Linked DNA regions of Homo sapiens: region 1 is linked to region 2. Evidence: fine-mapped expression QTL. A gene starts in region 2. The other region holds a variant in brackets. All regions are shown on one strand. Distances are from middle to middle. Region 1 overlaps FGD2 (FYVE, RhoGEF and PH domain containing 2). Region 2 holds the start of FGD2 (FYVE, RhoGEF and PH domain containing 2).

The links.
Region 1: its variant is fine-mapped to the expression of FGD2 in whole blood (TOPMed, PIP above 0.99).

The regions. Positions count from the first base shown.
Region 1 is chr6:37,022,659-37,033,439 of GRCh38, reverse strand. It overlaps FGD2 (FYVE, RhoGEF and PH domain containing 2), which reads right to left. Exons shown (of 16, transcript NM_173558.4): 14 at 7,502-7,648; 15 at 5,865-6,011; 16 at 4,371-5,492. The coding sequence ends at 5,277. Among named protein-coding and RNA genes, the nearest start is that of FGD2, 22 kb to the right of the region's middle. RefSeq lists enhancers at 3,718-3,797, 7,082-8,019, 7,731-8,930. The variant C/T (reference allele first, on the strand shown) is at 5,994.
Region 2 is chr6:37,000,532-37,010,081 of GRCh38, reverse strand. FGD2 (FYVE, RhoGEF and PH domain containing 2) reads right to left here and starts at 4,427. Exons shown (of 16, transcript NM_173558.4): 1 at 4,197-4,427; 2 at 1,017-1,248. The coding sequence starts at 4,264. RefSeq lists enhancers at 2,292-2,461, 4,282-4,411 and a silencer at 4,667-4,829.

The sequences.
Region 1 (10,781 bases), 23 kb before region 2:
TGGAAAGATGTGAAAGTCCCATGACCTCATGGACATAGTGGTGGCGATGATTAGTAAGTACGAGGTGATGGCCTTGTCGTGTCTGAGTCACACAATTCATTCTGTCAGTCCCCAGATCTTTTGTTTTGTTTTGTTTGAGACAGAGTCTCACTCTGTCACTGAGGCTGGAGTGCAGTGGTGCCATCTCGGCTCACTGCAACCTCCGCCTCCCAGGTTCAAGCGATTCTCCTGCCTCAGCCTCCCAAGTAGCTGGTACTACAGGCGTGTGCCACCATGTCCAGCTAATTTTTGTATTTTCTGGTAGTGACAGGGTTTCACCATGTTGCCCAGGATGGTCTCAAACTCCTGATCTCATGTGATCTGCCCGCCTCAGCCTCCCAAAGTGCTGGGATTACAGTTGTGAGCCACCACTCCCAGCCAGTCCCCAGATTTTTATTGAGGACTGGCTGTGGGCCAGGCACTGGGAAACAGCAGTGAACAAAAGACCAACTCTCTGCCCTCCAAAAATGGAGACAGGACACTAATCTAAGAAACATAAAATAGAAGCCGGGTGCGGTGGCTCACGCCTGTAATCCCAGCACTTCGGGAGGCCGAGGCGTGTGGATTACGAGGTCAGGAGATCGAGACCACGGTGAAACCCTGTCTCTACTAAAAATACAAAAAAATTAGCCCAGCGCAGTGGCGGGCGCCTGTAGTCTCAGCTACTCAGGAGGCTGAGGCAGGAGAATGGCATGGACCCGGGAGGCGGAGCTTGCCACTCGCACCACTGCACTCCAGCCTGGGTGACAGAGCGAGACTCCGTCTAAAGAAAAAAAAAAAGAAAGAAAGAAACAAAATAGATAAAACGATTTGTATTATGTGAAGCAGAGTCAGGGGCAGAGTTGCCAGGAGCACTACGTGAGGCAGGTGGACAAGGAAGCCTGTCCGAGGGCCAATGAGGCAGAGACTGGAGAGAAGTGAGGGAGTGCATCGGGCGGATTTCTGGAGGAACAGCATCCAGGCTGAACGAGCAGCAGGTGCAAGAGTCCTGAGGTGGAAGTGTGCTGAGGGAGGGAGGTGAGATGGGGCAAGGGAAGGGGGAACTCTGAGAAGCAGCCAGGGGTCATCCCAAAGGGCCTGGTGGAGCACACGGAGGGAGGCATTAGATGGGCTTCTAACCCCATGCTACTGGAGGGCTGGGAGCTGAAAACTAGCTCAGCTTTCAGATTTGAAAGAATCTGTGTGAAGATGCCAGAGGACAAGTGTGGGAGCAGGAAGGGCAGGTGGGAAGCTCTAGCAATCACCCCCAGAGATATCACAGTGGCCGGGCCAAGTGACAGCATGTGAGGGGTATGAGGTGTGAGGACGGGCTCTGTTCGCAGTATATCCTGAAGGTAGAAGCAACCAGGCTTGCGGCCAGAACAAATGGTCCCAGGAAAGCAGAAACGTCCATGAAGAGCATAGCTAGTAACAACTCCCAGCCAGCGAGCTCCGTCTGTGGGCTAGGAGCTTTCCCTGAATTATCTCACTTGGTTTTCACACCAAATCCTACAAAGAGGCACTGCTTGTCAAGTTACAATGAATACATGGAGGCTCAAGAGGTTGGGTGATATCCCCAAGACCCTATGTCAAGCCTTCAACAGAACTGGAATTTGAGCTTTTCAGGCTATCAAGGGGGTGCCCTTTGCATGATATCAGCTGCCCCTGAGATTTGGAAAGTAGTAGCATATTACCTTGCCAGGCGTGGTGGCTCACACCTGTAATCCCAGCACTTTGGGAGGCCAAGGCAGGTGGGTCACCTGAGGTCAGGAGTTTGAGACCAGCCTGGCCAACATGGTGAAACCCCGTCTCTACTAAAAATACAAAATTAGCTGGGCGTGGTGGTGCATACCTGTAATGTCAGCTACTTGGGAGGCTGAGGCAGGAGAATCGCTTGAACCTGGGAGGCAGAGGTTGCAGTGAGCGGAGATCGTGCCACTGCACTTCAGTCTGGACAACAAGAGCAAAACTCCATCTCAAAAAAAAAAAAAAAAGAAAAGAAAAAGTAGTATAAGTAGTATACTACCTGGCACGTATTAGGTACACATAGTAGGTAATAATCATTTGCAAAATACCTACTTTTTTTTCATTTTGAGACAGGGTCTCAGTCTGTCACCCATGCTGGAGTGCAGTGGTACAATCATAGCTCATTACAGACTCAAACTCCTGGGCTCAAGCGATCCTCCTGCCTTGACCTCCCAAAGTGCTGGGATTACAGATGTGAGCCTGTATGCATTTCTTTGTATCATAAACATTTAAAAGGTCATGAGCCCTATACATTCACCAGAATGTCTAAAATTATTAATTTTAAAAAAACAAACTTCAAACCTGACTATACCAAATGCATGAGCAGGGGAAATGTCATACATTGCTGGTAGGAATGCAGAATGGTACAACCAATATGGAAAACAGCTTGGTAGTTTCTGATAAAGTTAGACACTTACTCAGTGACCCAATTTTAGGTATTTACCTAAGAGAAAAGAAAACGTGCTCACACAAACACTGAACATGAACGTTTATAGTTCATAGGAGTATTATTCATAATTGCCCCAAACTGGAAATAACCCAAGTATACTTAACCTGGTAAACAGATGAACAACTGTGGTATGCCCATGCAATGGAATACTACTCAGCAATGAAAAAGGAATGAACTACTGACATGGAGAACAAAATGGATGAATCTCAAATATATAATGCTGAGTAAAGGAAGCCAGGCTTAAAAAGCTATGGTTCCATTTAAATGACATCTGGAAAAGGCAAAATTATCAGTCAGAAACAGATCAATGGTTACCAGAGGCAAGGAGTAGGGGTGTGGGTTGACTACAAAGGGTGGCATGGGGACACTTATAGGGGGATTGTGGTGGTAGCTGTATGACTGTACTCTTCTGCCAAAACTTAGAAAATATACTAATAAGGGTGGATTTTACAGTCTGTAAATTACACCTCAGTAAACCTAACAATGACAGCACAAAGGTTGTGTGCCCTCGCTTCCCTCTCCTGACGGCTACCTCATTTTGCTCCACAGTGAAGCCACTCTCCATACTCCCACTCAGATTAAACCCCTGGAAAAGCTTAGGTATCAGTGCTGCAGAATCGACTCTGCTGTCACCGAGCCAGCTGCCTTCAGCATCATTGGCGAGTTTTAAAATGCTGATGCAGGCCAGGTGCAGTGGCTCATGCCTGTAATCCCAGTACTTTGGGAGGCTGAGATGGGTGGATCACCGGAGTTCAGGAGTTTGAGACCAGCCTGGCCAATATGGTGAAACCCCGTCTCTACTAAAAATACAAAAATTAGCCGGGCATGGTGGCGCACGCCTGTAATCCCAGCTACTTGGAAGGTTGAGGTAGGAGAATCACTTGAACCTGGGAGGCAGAGGTTGCAGTGAGCCAAGATGGCGTCACTGCACTCCAGCCTGGGTGACAGAGTGACAGACTCCATCTCAAAAATAAAAATAAAAATAAAAAATAAATAAAATGCTGATGCTGTCCGGGCATGGTGGCTCATGCCTATAATGCCAACACTTTAGGAGGCCAAGGCAGGAGGATTGCTTGAGCTCAGGAGTTTGAGGTCAGTCTGGGCAATATAGTGAGACCCCATCTCTACAAAAATTTTAAAAATTAGCTGGATGTGGTGGCGTGCACCTGTGCTTCTAGATACTCAGGAGGCTGAGGAAGGAGGATAGCTTAAACCCAGAAGGTCAAGGTTCCAGTGGGCTCTGATCACACCACTGCACTCCAGCCTGGATGACAGAGCAAAACCCTGTCTCAAATAAACAAACAAACACCCTACAGGAGGGAAGTGGCCTCAGGTTGGAGGCAGGCAAAGCTGCTGGGCCTGTGATGGGACAAAAACCTGTGACTCATCCATGCTTCCTCCTTTCAGGGCAGAGCCCAGCAATGGCTGGACCTGCTGAGAGCAGCTGAGGGTGTTCTGGCCACTGCTGGGGCCACTGCATGTGGCCTGCTGACCACTGCCACCCCCTGGTGGTCTCTTATGAAAAAGCATCCTCACCCACCAGCGAGGTGGGGATGAGGGGACAGGGATGCTCCTCCCGTCACCCTTCCTCCCACCATTCACCTTTCTCTCTTGTCTTCCCAGCTTCTTCACTCTCTTTCCCTCTCTTTTGCTTCTCCTCACTCTCCTCCCCTCTCTGCTTGTCTTATTGTTCTGCTCCATGATAGAAAGAGCTTTGACCTTAGTTCACCGGGTTAAAACCTGGCTCTGGCATCTACGAGCTACATGACCAATTGAGCCAATTACTAAACCTCTCTGAGTCGGTGTCTTCATCTGGAAATGGGGATAACTCTGGATGGTAAAATGACATAATCCACATAAAACACCTTGCACAGAGCCTGGTCCAATAGATGTTTATTATTATTATTACTACTATCATGACTGGCACTTGACAGGGGCTCAACCATTGGTTGTGGTAGTTTGCTCTCTTTATTCTTCATCCCAGGTAACCCAGGCTATATATTAGACTCCAGTGGGTACTCTTAAAAAATATGCATGCGCCAGGTATGGTGGCTCACGCCTGTAATCCCAGCACTTTGGGAGGTGGAGGTGGGAGCATCGCTTGAGGCTGGGAGTTTGAGACCAGCCTGAGTAACATGGTGAAATCCCATCTCTACAAAAAATAAAAAAATTAGCTTGGCACAGTGGCACACACCTATAATCCCAGCTACTTGGGAGGCTGAGGCGGGAGGATCACTGGAGCCCGGGAGAGCGAGGCTGTAGTGAGCCATGTTTGTGCACTCCAGCCTGGGAAACAGAGTAAGACTCTGTCTCAAAAAAAAAAAAAAAAAGACCCCATGCCTCCCCCAACTCAGCCCATTTAAATCGGTGGTGGTACTTCAGTACAGGCATTGTTTTTTACATTTTTAAAATTAATTTACTATGTGTTTTTCACCAGTACTCTTTAAAAGCTCCCCAGGAGATACAAATGAAAAACCATACTATGGTGACCACCAGTCCGGGGTTACCTGGGGCTTTCCCAGTTTTAGCACTGGAAGTCCCATGGCCCAGGAGCCCCCTCCCCGCAAGGCAAACTGAGACACTTGGTTGTCCCCTTTCTAGAAAGGAATGGACCCATATTTTCTAATCCCAGATCGGGACACGTGGCCTGGGCGCAGATGGCTGAATCAATTCTCTGAAAGCACCACTTGGGGCAGTGGGTCACTGAGGCCACAGGGTCAGTCTGTGGCAGGAGCTGGGTTCAGGGTGGGGAGAGGTGGGCAGGAGAGCGGCTGGCAGTGGCTCAGTCGGACAGGTCCCCATCGTTGGGCCAGCTGGGGCTCCAGCCACTGGCCGCCCGCTCCATGGCCTTCACCCAGCGGCCCTTCAGCTCCTCCGTCTCGGCCTTGAAGGTGTAGAGCTGGCCTGACTGCTGTAGCTGGAAGACCCGAGGGTCCCCCTGGGGCCCAACAGTCACCTGGTAGCCCAGCAGGGGGATGGAGGTGTGAGCCCTCATGTCCTGGGGGGAGGAGAGAGCAGTGGGCCACTGTCCCCTCTCAGTCCTACTGCCCCAGATAGCCATCGTGAAGGCAACAGCCACGCACGCACAGCTCACACCCTAAACCCCCATGGGTTGGGGGTGGGCTGGTGAAGGCCATCGAGGAAGAGGACAGAAGAACTGGCTGCCTCTGAGGGCAAAGCAGTGGTGACCTAGAGTCAGGGCACAATTCTGAAACCTACCAACCTTGAGACTCCAGGATACCATATCCTCATTGGGCCTCAGTTTCCCTATCTGACATATGGAGCTAGCAATACTCACCCCTGACCCCCTTCACACACACGCTGTGGGAAGGCCAGGGCCTGACGGGGGGCGGGCAGGTGGTGGCCTTACCTGAGGGGCAGCATAGACATAGAGCACGAGGGGGTCATCCCGAGGGATCACACACCAGCCCCGGGGGCCGCTCTTGCCCCACTTGTCCCCGATGAGCTGCAGGAAGCTGCACATCAGGCTCTGGTCAGG[C/T]GTGGCTGAGGACCCTTTCTAAAACCAGAAGGAGGGACTGTCAGGGAGCAGAGCAGCCGCAAGTGCCAGATGTTGGTCTGGGGGCTTGACAATCACTATCTCCAATCCTTACAGCAGTACTGAATGGAGGGGTCCTTGGTCCTTGAGGCTCAGAGAGGTCCCATCAAGTGCCTGTGGTCACACAGCTAGCTGGCCAGTGGCAGAGCTGCAGTCAAACCCCAGCCTGCCTGAACCTGTCGCGTGTGTGCCCACAAGGGGCAGGTGCCGGGAGGGTGCCTGGAGCTGCTCCAGGAAACAGAATTGGGCCCTGAGAAGGGGCTGAGCATCTCCAGGGGCAGGCTGTGTTGCCTAGTGGTCAGGGGGTCCTGGGCCTGGAAGGATGGGGAGGATTGGAAACGGGGTGGATGCCCGTGGAAAAAGGCCAACTTTTTTTTTTTTTTCAGATAGTTTCTCTCTTGTTGCTCAGGCTGGAGTGCAATGGTGCAATCTCAACACATTGCAACCTCCACCTCCCGGGTTCAAGAGATTCTCCTGCCTCAGCATCCCGAGTAGCTGGGATTACAGGCATGCACCACCATGCCCGGCTGATTTTTTTTTTTTTGTATTTTTAGTAGAGACGGGACTTCACCATGTGGGCCAGGCTGGTCTCGAACTCCTGACCGCACGTGATCCATCCACCTTGGCCTCCCAAAGTGCTGGGATTACAGGCATGAGCCTTCCCGCCTGGCCAAAAGAGGCCAACTTGAACCTGGGAGTGAATCTCAGCTGGCACAGGCTGGGACCTTCTCCCACCTCCCAGGGACGGTGGGATGTCAACCTGGCCTTCGTGAGGGAGGGGCAGTGGACAGTGGTATTGATGCTGAGCTGGTTGACATTGTATTTGTGCTGCCTAGCTGAGCACAGTTGTACCCCCACAGGGGAGCACCTGTGGGGGCAAGTGTGGCTCAGTGAGGCCCCCAGGGCAACAGAAAGAACATCTGTGACTGAGATCAGAGAGCTGGCTCCTAACTTGCTGTGTGATCTTGGGCAAGTCACTCCTCCAGCCCTGGGTCTCCATGGGATAAGACCGACTGGCCCCTGGAGTCCCTTCCAGTTAGAATGGAGTCTCCAATCTGTCTGACCTGGAGCGTCAGTGTTCCCATCTGTAAAATGGAAGCGGTGACACCAGCTCTTGGCACCCTGGGACTGTCGGGGCAGGACATGGGGACGTGAACATGAGCTGTCCAGAGGGGCCGTACTATCGGATGGGGACATAGAGGAAGTGCAGAAGAATGTGGACGACAGCCTGCAGCCAAAGGGTGCCTCCATTTGGTGACAGGCTCCACACTGCCTGGGCTGTGGCGAGAGGCCTGGGGTCTGTGGGCAGAGAGAGGAAGAGGGAGAGGGGGGAGGGTGTGACCATGGCTGGCTTGTTCCTCAGCACTGGACAGTGTCAGCCCAGCATGGTTGCCGGGCACACATTCCCTGAACAGAGGACGGATGGTGAGCGCGGGGACAGTGGCCCTCACCTCCAGGATGCCCCGCCTCTTGTCCTCCTTGGCCTCAGGCAGCACATTTCCAGTGAGGAATGCGTAGCAGTGGAGGCAGACTCGGTTGGGCCTGTTGTCGTCGTATTTCAGTTCGGCCCGGTAGTCGGAGCACCTGGCACACACCACCTGAGGAGGACACATAAGGGGGCATGGGGCTGAGACCAGGCACCGGAGGGCTGGGCTCCTGCCTTGGTGGGCAGGTGGGGGCATGAGAGCAACCAGGGACTGGGGGAGGAAAAGAAAGCTTCGAGGGAGGAATAGAGGCAGAGCGGGGATGCTCCCCCATGCTGGTGAGGCCCAACTGCCTGGAGGCTGCGACACATGGGGGAGCTCGGGCTCGGGGCTCTTAGGCTGAGGGTTCAAGACCCGGCCCCCACCGCGAGGGCCGTAACTTCTCTCCCCTCCAGGTTCCCTCCGAGTGAGGGCTGCTGTGAACCCAAGGGGCTTGCCCCAGACGGGCCACTGGCATCTGATTCACTTTTCCAAATGCTGTCCTCTCCGCCATCTCACCTGACTCTCCCAAAGACCCCACCAGGCAAGCAGGGCCCAGCTTTTGTCCTCTCCTGACCCTGAGAGCCACACTGTTACCTGGCAGACAGGCCCTCCACACACAGGGTGTGTCTTTCAAGTCCCACAGTTTAGCTTTAAGATTCAGGCAGACTTTGTATTCTGCGCCATCATGGAGTCAAGTGTGTTTTCACCTAAAAATGATAGGCTGGTTGTTTTTACATGGGTACTCTGTGGAGCGGGGCCCACTCTCAGCTCACCACGAAGACACCCCCCAAAGGCTGACATGGATCATGCCGGGAGGCTGGGTAAAAGGGGCCTGGGAAGACTCAGAGAGGAACACTGGGTGCCGCAAGGTGTGACTGCGAGGAAGACTTGGCTTTATGGGGAGCCCAGATGTGGGCGTGGAGATGGAGGGCAGGAGAAAGGGGCAGAGGGAGTGTAGTTCATCAGGCGGCACCAGCCTTCAGGGAGCTCCTCTGTGTGCCCAGCACAGAGTGTGGCCTGGCAGGGACCTGGAGAAGAAGGCCTGGCCCTGCCCCACCCTCACAAGGATTCCCGTCTGGCAGGCAGGGGAGACAGAAACTGGCACCCGAACCACCGAAAGGATGACTCACTGGCTCAGCAGGCACGAAGATCTGCACAGGCAAGAGAAACCCACGGTCAGGGCACAGCCCCACACGGGGGCTTCAGCTACCTCAGGAGCATTTTTTTTTTATTGAGCGATTTCAATGTTTAAATATAATTAGTAAATATTTTTTCCTCTACCAACGTTTAATTTTGAAAAATTTCCTACCGACAGACAAATTGAACAAATAATACAATGATACCACCCACTAGATTCACTAATTATTAACATTTGTGCCACATTTGCTCTCTGTCTCTCTCTATATGTATGTATTTTATTTTTTTCTGAACCATTTGAGGATAAATTACAGTCATCATGACACCTCACCCTTAAATATGTAGCTGGTGGTCTCCTAAGAACAAGGGCATCCTTCTACCTATCCACGGTGTCACAGTCACGCTCAGGAAATTTATTGATACAATATTATTATTTTTATTTTTTTGAGATGGAGTTTTGCTTTTGTTGCCTGGGCTGGAGTACAGTGGGGTGATCTGGGCTCACTGCAACCTCCACCTCCTGGGTTCAAGCGATTCTCCCTCCTCAGCCTCCCGAGTAGCTGGGATTACAGGTGTACACCACCACACCCGGCTAATTTTGTATTTTTAGTAGAGACAGGGTTTCACCATGTTGGCCAGGCTGTTCTCGAACTCCTGGCCTCAGGTGATCCGCTCACCTCGGCCTCCCAAAGTGCTGGGATTACAGGTGTGAGGCACTGCACCCAGCCAATACAATATTATTATCTAGATATGTTGCATCATCAAATTTCTCCCAATGGTCCCAAGAGCAACCTTGATAGCTTTATTTTACCCCAGAAAGAATCCAAGCAAGGATCATACATTTAATTTAGTTGTCAGAATATTTTCTATCTTAAGCTGGAAGGCAGCTACACAGGTGTTGTTATTCTTTGTGCCTCTTTGTATTTCACTATTTTAAGTAATTTTTAAAGAACTACTTTCACTCACAAGTGTGAATCAATTCAACTCTTATTTACAGAAGTGAATCACCAGGAACAGTAGCCAATCCCCACATCCTTTCTACCTGGCTTCGGGATGTAACTCATCACTGACATCTGAAGGCAGGTGTGTTCCCAGGTCCTAGAAACTGACTCTGTCCTGATTGCAGTTGAACACATTTTGGGGACACCTCCCTGACTGGCCCCAACCTGTCCAGCTAGACTCCTCCTGTCCTCTGGAGGTCATCAAAGACTGAGGTTGCAAAGGGCTTCTCTGTTTGCAGAGTAAACAGAGGGGGTTGTGATGTCAACAGAGAACAGCTCAAGTACAGGAGTGCTTAAAAAGCAAAGCGAGATCTACCTCTGGTAACTGGGCCTGGATTGATAAGAGGAGAAACTGTAGTGGACACAGTACCCTCCTCAAGAAGCTGGTAGCTCACCCGCACTGGATGCCCTGCCTGAGTTATGGAGGAGGGGGAAAGAAAAAGAGGAGAGGGAAGGGAAAGAATGTTTTTTGGTGGAATCCTCACTGCCACACTGGAGGTAGGTTTCACGATCCCCATGGCGGAGTTAAGGAGACTGAGGCCTGAACCAGTAGGCAGAGTTAACAACAGAATCCATCAGGTGCCAGGGTGCTGAGGGCTTGCAGAGAAGAGAGGACAGTTAGCCGAAGCGGGTAAAGAGAGGATGACGGGGTGGGTGAGTGCATAGTGGGCATGGGCCTGGTGAGGTGGTGGGGCAAGGCCTGAGGGGGTGCGGGGCTAGATGCCCCTCCACTAGAACTGGGGACCATTTCCTAGCTCTGGGTCTCAGGGTCGTGGAAAATGATGATAAGAATGCAGGTAAATTCATAGGATCAGCTTCAGGGGTACCTTCAGCAAGTAATTTAACCTCAATGGGTCTCATTTTCCCATCTAAAAAATGGGAAACAGCAGCCTCCTGAGGTGTGCTGTGAGGGCCAGATGAGGTAGTAATACACACACCTGGCTCAGAGCTAGTGCCCAACACCACTGGGCTGCATTGGTTGAAGCCAGCAGATTTGGCCAAGATGGGGACAGCAGCACCTGAGCTGGGTGGGTAGAGGCCCAGGTAGGGCAGGTAGAGGCCTAAGTGGGACAGGTAGAGGCCTGGGTGACACTGGTGGAAGCCAAGGTGGGGCAGGTGGAGGCCGA
Region 2 (9,550 bases):
TCAACTCACAAAATGTGAGAAACAATAAACAGTTACATTCAGCCCCTACATTTTTTTTTTTTTTTTTTGAGACAGAGTCTCGCTCTGTCACCCAGGCTAGAGTGGAGTGGCGCAATCTCGGCTCACTGCAACCTCCTCCTCCTGGATTCAAGTGATTCTCCTGTCTCAGCCTACTGAGTAGCTGGGATTACAGGCGCCCACCACCATGCCCAACTAATTTTTGTATTTTTAGTTGAGACAGTGTTTCCCTATGTTGGCCAGGCTGGTCTTGAACTCCTGACCTCAGGTGATCTGCCCACCTCGGCCTCCCAAAGTGCTGGGATTACAGGCGTGAGTTACTGCACCCGGCCAGCCGCTACATTTTTGATAGGTTTGTTCAGCAGCGATTGAAAACCAGGACGCATTACTATAACCACTATCCCCATTTTACAAATGAGGAAACTGGCACAAAGAGACTCAAGTGACTTGCCCAAGGACACACAGTTAGTAAGCAGACGTGCTGGGATGTGACTCCAGGGAATTTGGGTGCACAGTATCTGCATGCCAACCCTTGAACTCTGCAGATGAGAAAACTGCAAGCCACAGAAGAGATCAGACTGGGCTTTAGTCTAAGGGCAGGACAGTTCACACTCAGACCTCTATTTCTAGGTTGAGATTGTTGTCTCCTCCAGTGGGTAAACTGAGGCCCCACCTGAGAAGAGTATTAGGTTCACAAGATGGAGACTGTTCCAAGCTGTGTGGCCTTGAATAAGTTCCTTAAAACTGTGTTTCAACTTCCTTGTCCAAAAAACTCCTACACGAGGGACTCGCGAAGTAATCCAGCACGGTGCGTAGCAGGCAGTTAGTGAATCAAAGGCCATTAAGCATGGGGAAATCTAGCTCCCAGCTGACCTCTGATCACACCATACCCCCACCTGGGGAACTGCTGGCTCTGGCTAGGAAAGCATGTGTGGAGGGGAGGTCAGGGAGAGCTCCCCACCCCAGCACCCCACACCTCTACCTCAGCCCTCAGGCACCTGCGTCCCCGATCCTGAGAGGGTCACAGGCTGGCAAGATTTCCTCCAGGCTTCGCTGGACAGCTTGTTCTTCAGGGAGTTCAGGTACCTCCTGCTGACTGTCCTGGGCTCAGACCCCACGGCCTCCCCGACATTCGTCTTCTCCCGTGGTCCTGGGGACTCGGGAGGCCTGCACTCAGGGCGGTGATGCACGTCCTCTAGCCTCTGGCCTCTGGGTGCTGCTTCTGGGGTCCTGAGGAGAAGAGACAGACCTGAGGGCTTCCTCCCTGGAGAACAGGGAAAACAGCAGCAAGTCCCTGGTGTGGATTTGGGTTGCCTGGTGCAAATCCCCAGTGCAGGGGCCCCTGGGTGCCTGGCTTTCTTTGGGAACATGCTGAGTAAGACTTTCACTTCTCTCCCAACACATTCTTGGAGGGAACTCAGTGTTCAAAATGAGTCAGGGTGGACTATATTTTATTTTCTGGGGAACTGCATACTTCCTTGTTTAAAATGAAGCCACAGTGTCCAGGAATCCTTTCTGTATATAGGGGTTTTTGAGTGGTACCCCCTGGATTATCCTCACCTTTGGACCTCACCTCTGTTTTCAGTTTCCACATCAGTAACCTATACATCAAGGGAAGGTAGGAGCCACAGAACAATATAAAGTGAGAGCAGGCCTGCAAAAGCTGGGGCTTCTCAATGGGATCGACATCCTCCACACGTCCAGAAGCAGGGAGAGCCAGCCCAGCAGCAGATGCTCTGTTCTCCCAGGGACGGGCCTTCGTAGGTCACCTTTATTACCCTGTGTACTGGGTTCTGCAAGCCAGTCAAATTCCTTAGACAACAGGGCCCACCCTTGATGAATACACCCAACGTTGCCCTTGGTGTGGAAGGGCTTGTGATGACAGAACAGGGCAGGCATCCTTATGAGAAAGACAGGCCAGGAAATGGAAGGCCAAACAAATACGAAATCTCCAAAACTCCGTGAGAAAGGTTTTCATTACCCATATTTTGCACTCAAGGAAACTGAGGTCTGGACAGGATGAGTAACATGCGGCTCGGAAGTGGCAGAGGTGGGATTCAAATCAGGCGACTGCTTCCTGAGCCTTCACTCTAACCTGCCCCTCCCCATTTGAGTAAAGGAGAAACAGGTCCGCGGAGTCAAAGTGACTTGCCCCAAGTGACACAATTGGGTTTGTGGCAGCGAAAGCATTGGGACCTAGTGCTGTGTGGCTACTCCCAGGCTCTCCCACCCCTCCCTGGCACCCCAGTCCCTGGTTTCTCAGCCCATGGGTCTGCAGCTCATGGGCGTAGCTGGTTCTCAGGCTTTCTGTTCTACATTTGGTTTCAGGTTCTGCATTTCTGTTCTAGGGCCCCTGGCCAGCTTCTGTTTCCTCTTTGCCCCTCAGTTTCAGATCAGCTGAGGTGCTGGAGACCTCATAAGGAAGCCCAGGCCAAGGCAGTTGGTATGGGTCCCCTCACTCAGTAAGGAGTGGCTCTCACCCTCTTGATGCCTGCTGGGACCTAACTCCCGTCTAAGGGCTGCCCACTCCTGCCAGGGTTATTGCCTGGGCAGAGCACAGCATGCTGAGGGGCTCCACCCAGGTGTGCCTAGTCCACGTCAAGCATGTTGAGTGAGGTGGTACCATCCACCCACACCCAAGGGGGTGGTGGGCCAGGAAGGCGGCACCCAAGAGCTGTCTTTGGTGCTGAACAGGACGAGCTTGGCAAAGATCCCGGGAGAGGCAGGGGAGAATCACCCAGCTCAGGAAGTTGAAGACTTCTAGGTCTACATCTATGCCATCTCCACCCTGAAGCCTACAGGAAACATTGCCTGCCATGAGTGCCCTCAATACAGCATCCGGGCCATTCCTAGGACATCTACTGTCTATGACCTTGCATCATAGTTATTCGATGAGCTCAGCATCCAAATACTGAAACCCTTCTTCATCCTCTACAGTTCCTGTAGGATGCTGTGCTGTGCCACCCATGTCCCTCCTTCAGGAATGAGGCCTCCCCACACCATCCCCACCAGCTACTGGTAGTACTGGGGGCTGCCGGGTAATTTATTGGCTGAGTCCCTCTCTGGGAATCACTCTCTGGAAGAGAGAGCTGCCTCACCCAGAGTCTCTTGTCCAGTCCACATGGAGATACAAATACCCAGCCCTCTTCCTCAGCTGGAACAACCGAGAGGCATCCCAGCTCCAGAGCTCCCTGGGACAGGCTGAGGCCTCTGTGGCAGGTGCACTGCAGTTCAGCATCTCCCCCTGCCCGGCCCTGCTTCCCTCACACCCACAGCTGTTGTTCCCAAAAGCTCTCCCTGATAAATCACCTGAGGCAAACCTCTGTCTGAGTCTATTTCCAGAAAACCCTACCTGGGACAGCCCCTAACACAGTCCTGAGCTTAAGAAATGCCTGCAGAATGGATTGATGCCACACATAACACACAACACACACATACACACACGCGCACACACACAAACACACATGCTCCCAGGGCTACCAATGACTCCACGCATCTGGCCCAGCCTTTTCCCTCCAGACAGACGCCCCAGCATTGCCCCAGATACTTAAAGCACTTGGCATCCTCACCTCTCTGTGTCTCCATTTCCTCATCTATAAGACGGGAACAGAAACAGAATCTACCCCTATTAGGCTGTTCGATGACTAAATTAAATAAGTAAGGACATGAACTTAGAGTAGGGAGTACCCCATCAGGATGCTGCCCGTACATCCTGGTTTGCCTCATACGGTCCCAGCTTTACCTGTAATGCCTCCCCCACAACCACCACATTTTATTTGGCATTTACTTTCAGTTTCAATTGTGTGCTGAATGATAAATTATATGGTTATCCTAATCATAGGGCGTAAATTCTTGGTGAGTATCAGCTACCTTTTCTGAGAGGTGCTGGCAGGCACTGGGTGGGGTCCTGTGCCCACACACAGGCTTTGGTCTGCCCATGCTTGCTCGTAACCACACCTGTCTGGACTCTCCCAACACACACTGGCACTCTCACCCCTGCCTGGCTCCTGGTGTCCCACCGACACTCTCCCATGCTCCAAGGAATCCGTGACCGAGGAACGCGGGGCTGCCCCTGCAGGAGGAGGGTCCGGGGCAGGGCCCAGGGAGAGAGCTGCCAGAAAGGCTGGAGGGTGGCTGCCAGCCCACCATGGTGACCCTCCCACCCCAGCTGCCCATACCTGCTATTCTCAAACACAGTGACCAGGTTGGACACAGATGCCAGCTTCTCCTCACTTGCCCCCTTCATCCTGCCGGTTTCCGGGGTGGATCTCAGCTACCCTCGAAGCAGAGAGAGAGGCCTCCAGCCAGCACACTCAGCCACGCTGGCCTGGGACAGATAGGCTAAATCACCCATGAATCTGTTCTGATCTTTCTTGAGGGCTCAGAAGGTCGGCTCTTGGCTTCAGAGTGAAGAAAGAGGAAGTGGTCCCAGAGCCACAGCCCTGCAGGGGAAAGGCCAGCACTCCCGCAGTGGGAGGAGCCTGCTCGGGCCCCACCTCTCCCTCAGGGGGGCTGACCTTTCACACCTGTAGACCCCCATTCCAGAAGCCACCTAAGAGGTGGCAACAGGGCCCAGAGGTAGCTTCTGGAGCCCAGTCTGGGCTGGTGCAGTGGTTTGCACCTCTAATTCCAGTGCTTTGGGAGGCCGAAGCAGGAGGATTGCTTGAGCCCAGGAGTTCAAGACCAACCTGGGCAACATAGTGAGACACCGTCTCTTAAAAAAAAAAAAAAAAAAAAAGGCCACCCGGAGCCAGACCCTTGGCTGGTTTCTTGGCCTAGTGGTTCCAGCCAACCACACTTTCTCCTTCAGAAGGTCCAGTGGCTTTTACTTGGCCTCTTTCCCAGCACCTTCTTTTCTGCATCTGCCCCTGCTCACAGCTGTAAGGAAATAATGTCTTTTTTATTCTTTAGAGACAGAGTGCGGTGGTGGGATCTCGGCTCACTGCACCCTCTGCCTCCCGGTTCAAGCGATTCTCCTGCCTCAGCCTCCTGAGTAGCCGGGATTACAGGGCCTGCCACCACGCCCTGCTAATTATTTGTATTTTTAGTAGAGATGGGGTTTCACCATGTTGCTCAGGCTGGTCTTGAACTCCTGGCCTCAGGTGATCCTCCTGCCTCGGCCTCCCAAAATTCTGGGATTACAGATGTGAGCCACTGTGCCTGGCCAGGAAACAGCATGTTTTATTTAAAATAATCACAAACCTGGTAAGGGTGGCAGGGAGTACTGTGATGTTCCCACCTCCCCACTGGGGTTCTCTCATTTTAGTTGTTGCTGTCATCACCTCATTGCCCCAAGGGAGGGCAGTTTCCTCCCTGAAACTCAGAGGATAATAATAGCTAACATGCACTCTTTTTCATGCTTATGAGTATTTTCTTATTAATCCTATAACAACCTCATGAGGTAGGTACTATTCCTATCCCCACTTTACATAGGAAGAAACAGAATCAGAGAGGTTAAGTAACTTGCCCAAGGTCACCCAGGAAGAATACAAGAGAAGTTGGATTTCCAAAGCAAAAGTGGGTGTCCTACAGTTCCAGCAAAGGTTCGTTGGGAGCCTGGATGACCATGTTCTTGCTGCTCCATCCCCAGGCCTCCCTGATCCCAGGACACTGGGTTGTCTTTGCCTGAGGCCTCCTTTACCACCTGGTCTCCCGGCCCTTACAGAACAAATGGACGCTGCCTCTGTTCCCCTCCTTCAAGCCCCACAGGCCGTTCAGGGCCCTCCCACTGGGCTCTGGTCCCACCAGGGCTCTCCACTGAACCTGGTCTGTGTCCTGGAGTGCAGGGCCTGAGCCTCGGTGCTCTTGGTACGTGAAGTGCCTGGAACAGCTTCACGCTCCAGTAACTGTGAACCCCTGGGGCCTCACATGCCCAACAGCCGCCCTCACCCCAAGCCTCGTCTGAGTGGTTTCTCCCACCAGATGCCGGGCCCCCTGCCCCAAACCCTAAGTCTCACAAACCTCCATTTTTGTTTTTTACTTTTTATTATGGAGAATTTAGAACATATGCAAAACTAGACAGAATCATATAATGCATCCCATGAACCCCTAATCCAGACCATAACAAACCTCAGCTCACAGCCAGTCCCCTGTCCCTGCTGCAGCCACATCGACTCTGCCTTCTCATGTCATTTTGAAGAAAATCCCAGATGTCAGATGACATTACCCATAAACATTTTAGTGTGTATCTAGAAGATGAGAACTCTCTCTCTCTTTTTTTTTTTTTTTGAGACTGAGTCTTACTCTGTCACCCAGGCTGGAGTGCAGTGCTGCAATCTCGGATCACTGCAATCTTCACCCCACTGGGTTCAAGCGATTCTCCTGCCTCAGCCTCCTGAGTAGCTGGGACTACAGGTGTGTGCCACCACACCCAGCTAATTTTTGTATTTTTAGTAGAGACGGAGTTTCACCATGTTGGCCAGGCTGGTCTCGAACTCCCAACCTCAGATGATCCACCTGCCTCGGCCTCCCAAAGTAGTGGGATTACAGGCATGAGCCACCGCGCCCAGCCAAGAACCCTTTAAATAACTAAATATACACACACATAAATGTATATGCATATATACACATGTATAATAGTAATATTGTTTTATATAGACATACATGTTTTACATGTTATATCCATGTGTATATACATATGAAATAATATTACCGTTATCATACCCCAAGAGATATTTAGCAATAATTCCTCAATATAATTAAATATCCAGAAAACATTCCAAGTGCCAATTCCTTATAAATGTTAAATTAAAAAAAAAAATCAGAATCCAAATAAGGTCCACACATTCCCTGAGCTGTCACGTGGATGAATTCACTTTTCATCCACACGTTCCCCTGGTCCTTTCCGTTTTCCCACACAGCATAGTGGAGGGACCCTGGGTTGTTTGTCCTGTAGGTCCCACAGCCAGGACTTAGCCCATTGCAGCGCCATACCCTGGATTTCCTGTCGATGGTGGTTAGGTCTAGAGGCTCGATCAGAATCACCTTTAAATGCCACTTCTTCCCGATGCCCTCCCTGGCCTGGGGGCGCCTCCCTCCCTGGTGTTCCTCTCCTGGATTTCCTCCTCTGCCTCCCACCAGTCTCTCTGCTCACTGGCTGGCTTGCTCCCTCCACGCAGGGCACACCTGAGTACGTGCACTTCCTGGTGGGTCCCCAACCCCAGCGCCCTTCCCGCATACAGTGGGGCCTCAGAAGGCATGTGGAATGGACAGACATCACACCCCAAGCCTCAGAGGATTGTCTTACCCCTCAGCTGCCAGTGCTTTGAGCATCCAAGCCTGAACAATGGGACCTGCCCCTCCCATGGGGGCTGGAGGGTGGGTAGGTGGGCCTTCAAGAGGCCTCCAATACCCTAACCCTGAAGATGGCACAGGCACCATCAGAGCTGCTTCCCTCCAGGAAAAAGAGGCCAAGATGTCTACACCCCCAAAACAACCTTCCCTCATCATCCAAGGCTCTGCCTCCCCTGTCCCCTACCACTCTGACTTGGGCCCCTCACAGTCTGCCAGGCTTTCTGCCTGTACCTGCAGGCATCACCTGAGACTCAGCCTCGGCCTTCTGGTCTCCTGATTCACACACACCTCCCACCCAATTCAGAATTTATCCTGGAGGTCCCACTGGTACCTCTTCCTGCCCTTCTACCCAGTGGATATGTCCAACACCTTCAGGATATCACCAGGTAGATGCCTACCTTTGCTTCCAACTCAACACACAACTCTCTAAAGCCAGCACCATTATTGCACTGAAGTCATCTCAAACTCACTGGGGCAGCCATCAAGATCCTCCTGGTTGACACTCTCAGCTACTTCTTGCCTGCACACACCTAATCTGTGTTGGGATCCAAACCTGCCGGGTACTGTGGCTGAGCTAAGCTGAGCCACGCTGAGCCACAGCCCCAGAATCCCCTTCCCTGCATGGTCTGGACTACTGTTAGCCATGGATGCAGGAGGGGATATAGCAGCCCTGTTTTGTTCCTGGGTCAGTGCAGAGCTCCAGCCCTGTTGCAGATCATACATGTTGATGTGGGTCTGTTGCTTCTCCACTGATCTTCCTTTTCAGCTTGTCCAGCTCCTGGGCCAGGTGCATGCTTAGCTCCAGGACAAAGATAACCTGTGTCATCAAAGTTGATGGCTTGGAGGTGGCCACCTGTCCGTCCTCCAGAGTCCCAGCTCTTCCTGACTAGTTCAGTTCCTCTTTGCTCCCCCTACCTCCCTGCCGGCTTCTCCTCCCCACTGCCTGCCCTGCTTACTTTAGACTCAGAAGCATTAACTCTTTAAGAAGCTCCCACACTGTATAAGGTCAAATTCTGTATTCTGTATTGGATCCCTGCAGTTCTGGCTTGGGCATCCCTCCCTCACACTCTCTCCCTCCCACCTTCCCCCATCTGAGCTGCAGGGAACTGAGCTCTTCCATCTTCTGTATTGTGTCACTCCCGGTCCTTCTGCTTCTCTGTAGCACCTTGGACCAGTAACAGAACTTCACTTTCCTCTTCTGCCACATGGGGATAATTATACTGCCAACCTCCTGTGGTTGTTATGAAGATTAAATGGGATAATAATATATAGAAGAGGTTAGAGTAAGGCCTGGTACTGAGTAGGTACTCGGTGACTGTTGGCTACCAGCATTCTTACTTTTGAGAGAAGCCTTTGCTATAGCTCCGCTCTGCCTTGACCAATCAGTTCCCTTTGCCTAGAGCAGTGGTCCCCAACCTTTTTGGCACGAGGGACTGGTTTCTGGGGTTGCGGGGGGTGGGGAGATGATTTTGGGATGAAACTGTTCCACTCAGATCATCAGGAATTAGATTCTCATAAAGAGTGAGCAAACTAGATCCCTCACATGCACAGTTCACAATAGGATTCGCACTCTTATGAGAATCTAATGCCACTGCTGATGGGACATGAGGCAGAACTCAGGTGGTAATGCTCACCCGCCACTCACCTCCTGCAGTACGGCCCAGTTCCTAATAGGCTACGGGATCCCTGGCCTAGAGTGTCTTCAGTCTGTCTACAGCCGGTTCACTTCCTCCAGGAAGCCTTCCTTTATACCTACTGCTGGAAATTCATTTTCCTCCTCAGAGACCTGGTGTTCCTCTCTGTTTAATTTTGTCTTTTCCGCCCTATTCATTAAGTCACGCATTCAGTAGATAAGTGTTTCTTGAGCACCTACTATGTGTCAATACCATAGTAGAGGTTGTAGATAAAACACAGTCCCCAGCCCTTTAGCTCAAACTCTAATAAGGAAGATGGGCCTGTTAACCACTAAAATAGGATGTGATGAAAGCTTTGAACAAGGGAGTTATGAACATCCAAAGAAGGGTCATCAGAAGGCTTTGTGGCAGAGGTGACTTGAAGTATGAAAGATGAAGGATGGGCTGGGTGCGGTGGCTCAAACCTGTAATCCCAGCACTTTGGGAGGCTGAGGCGGGCGGATCACAAGGTTAGGAGTTTGAGACCAGCCTGGCCAATATGGTAAAACCCCGTCTCCATTAAATTAAAAAAAAAAAAAAGCAAGGTGTGGTGGCAGGTGCCTGTA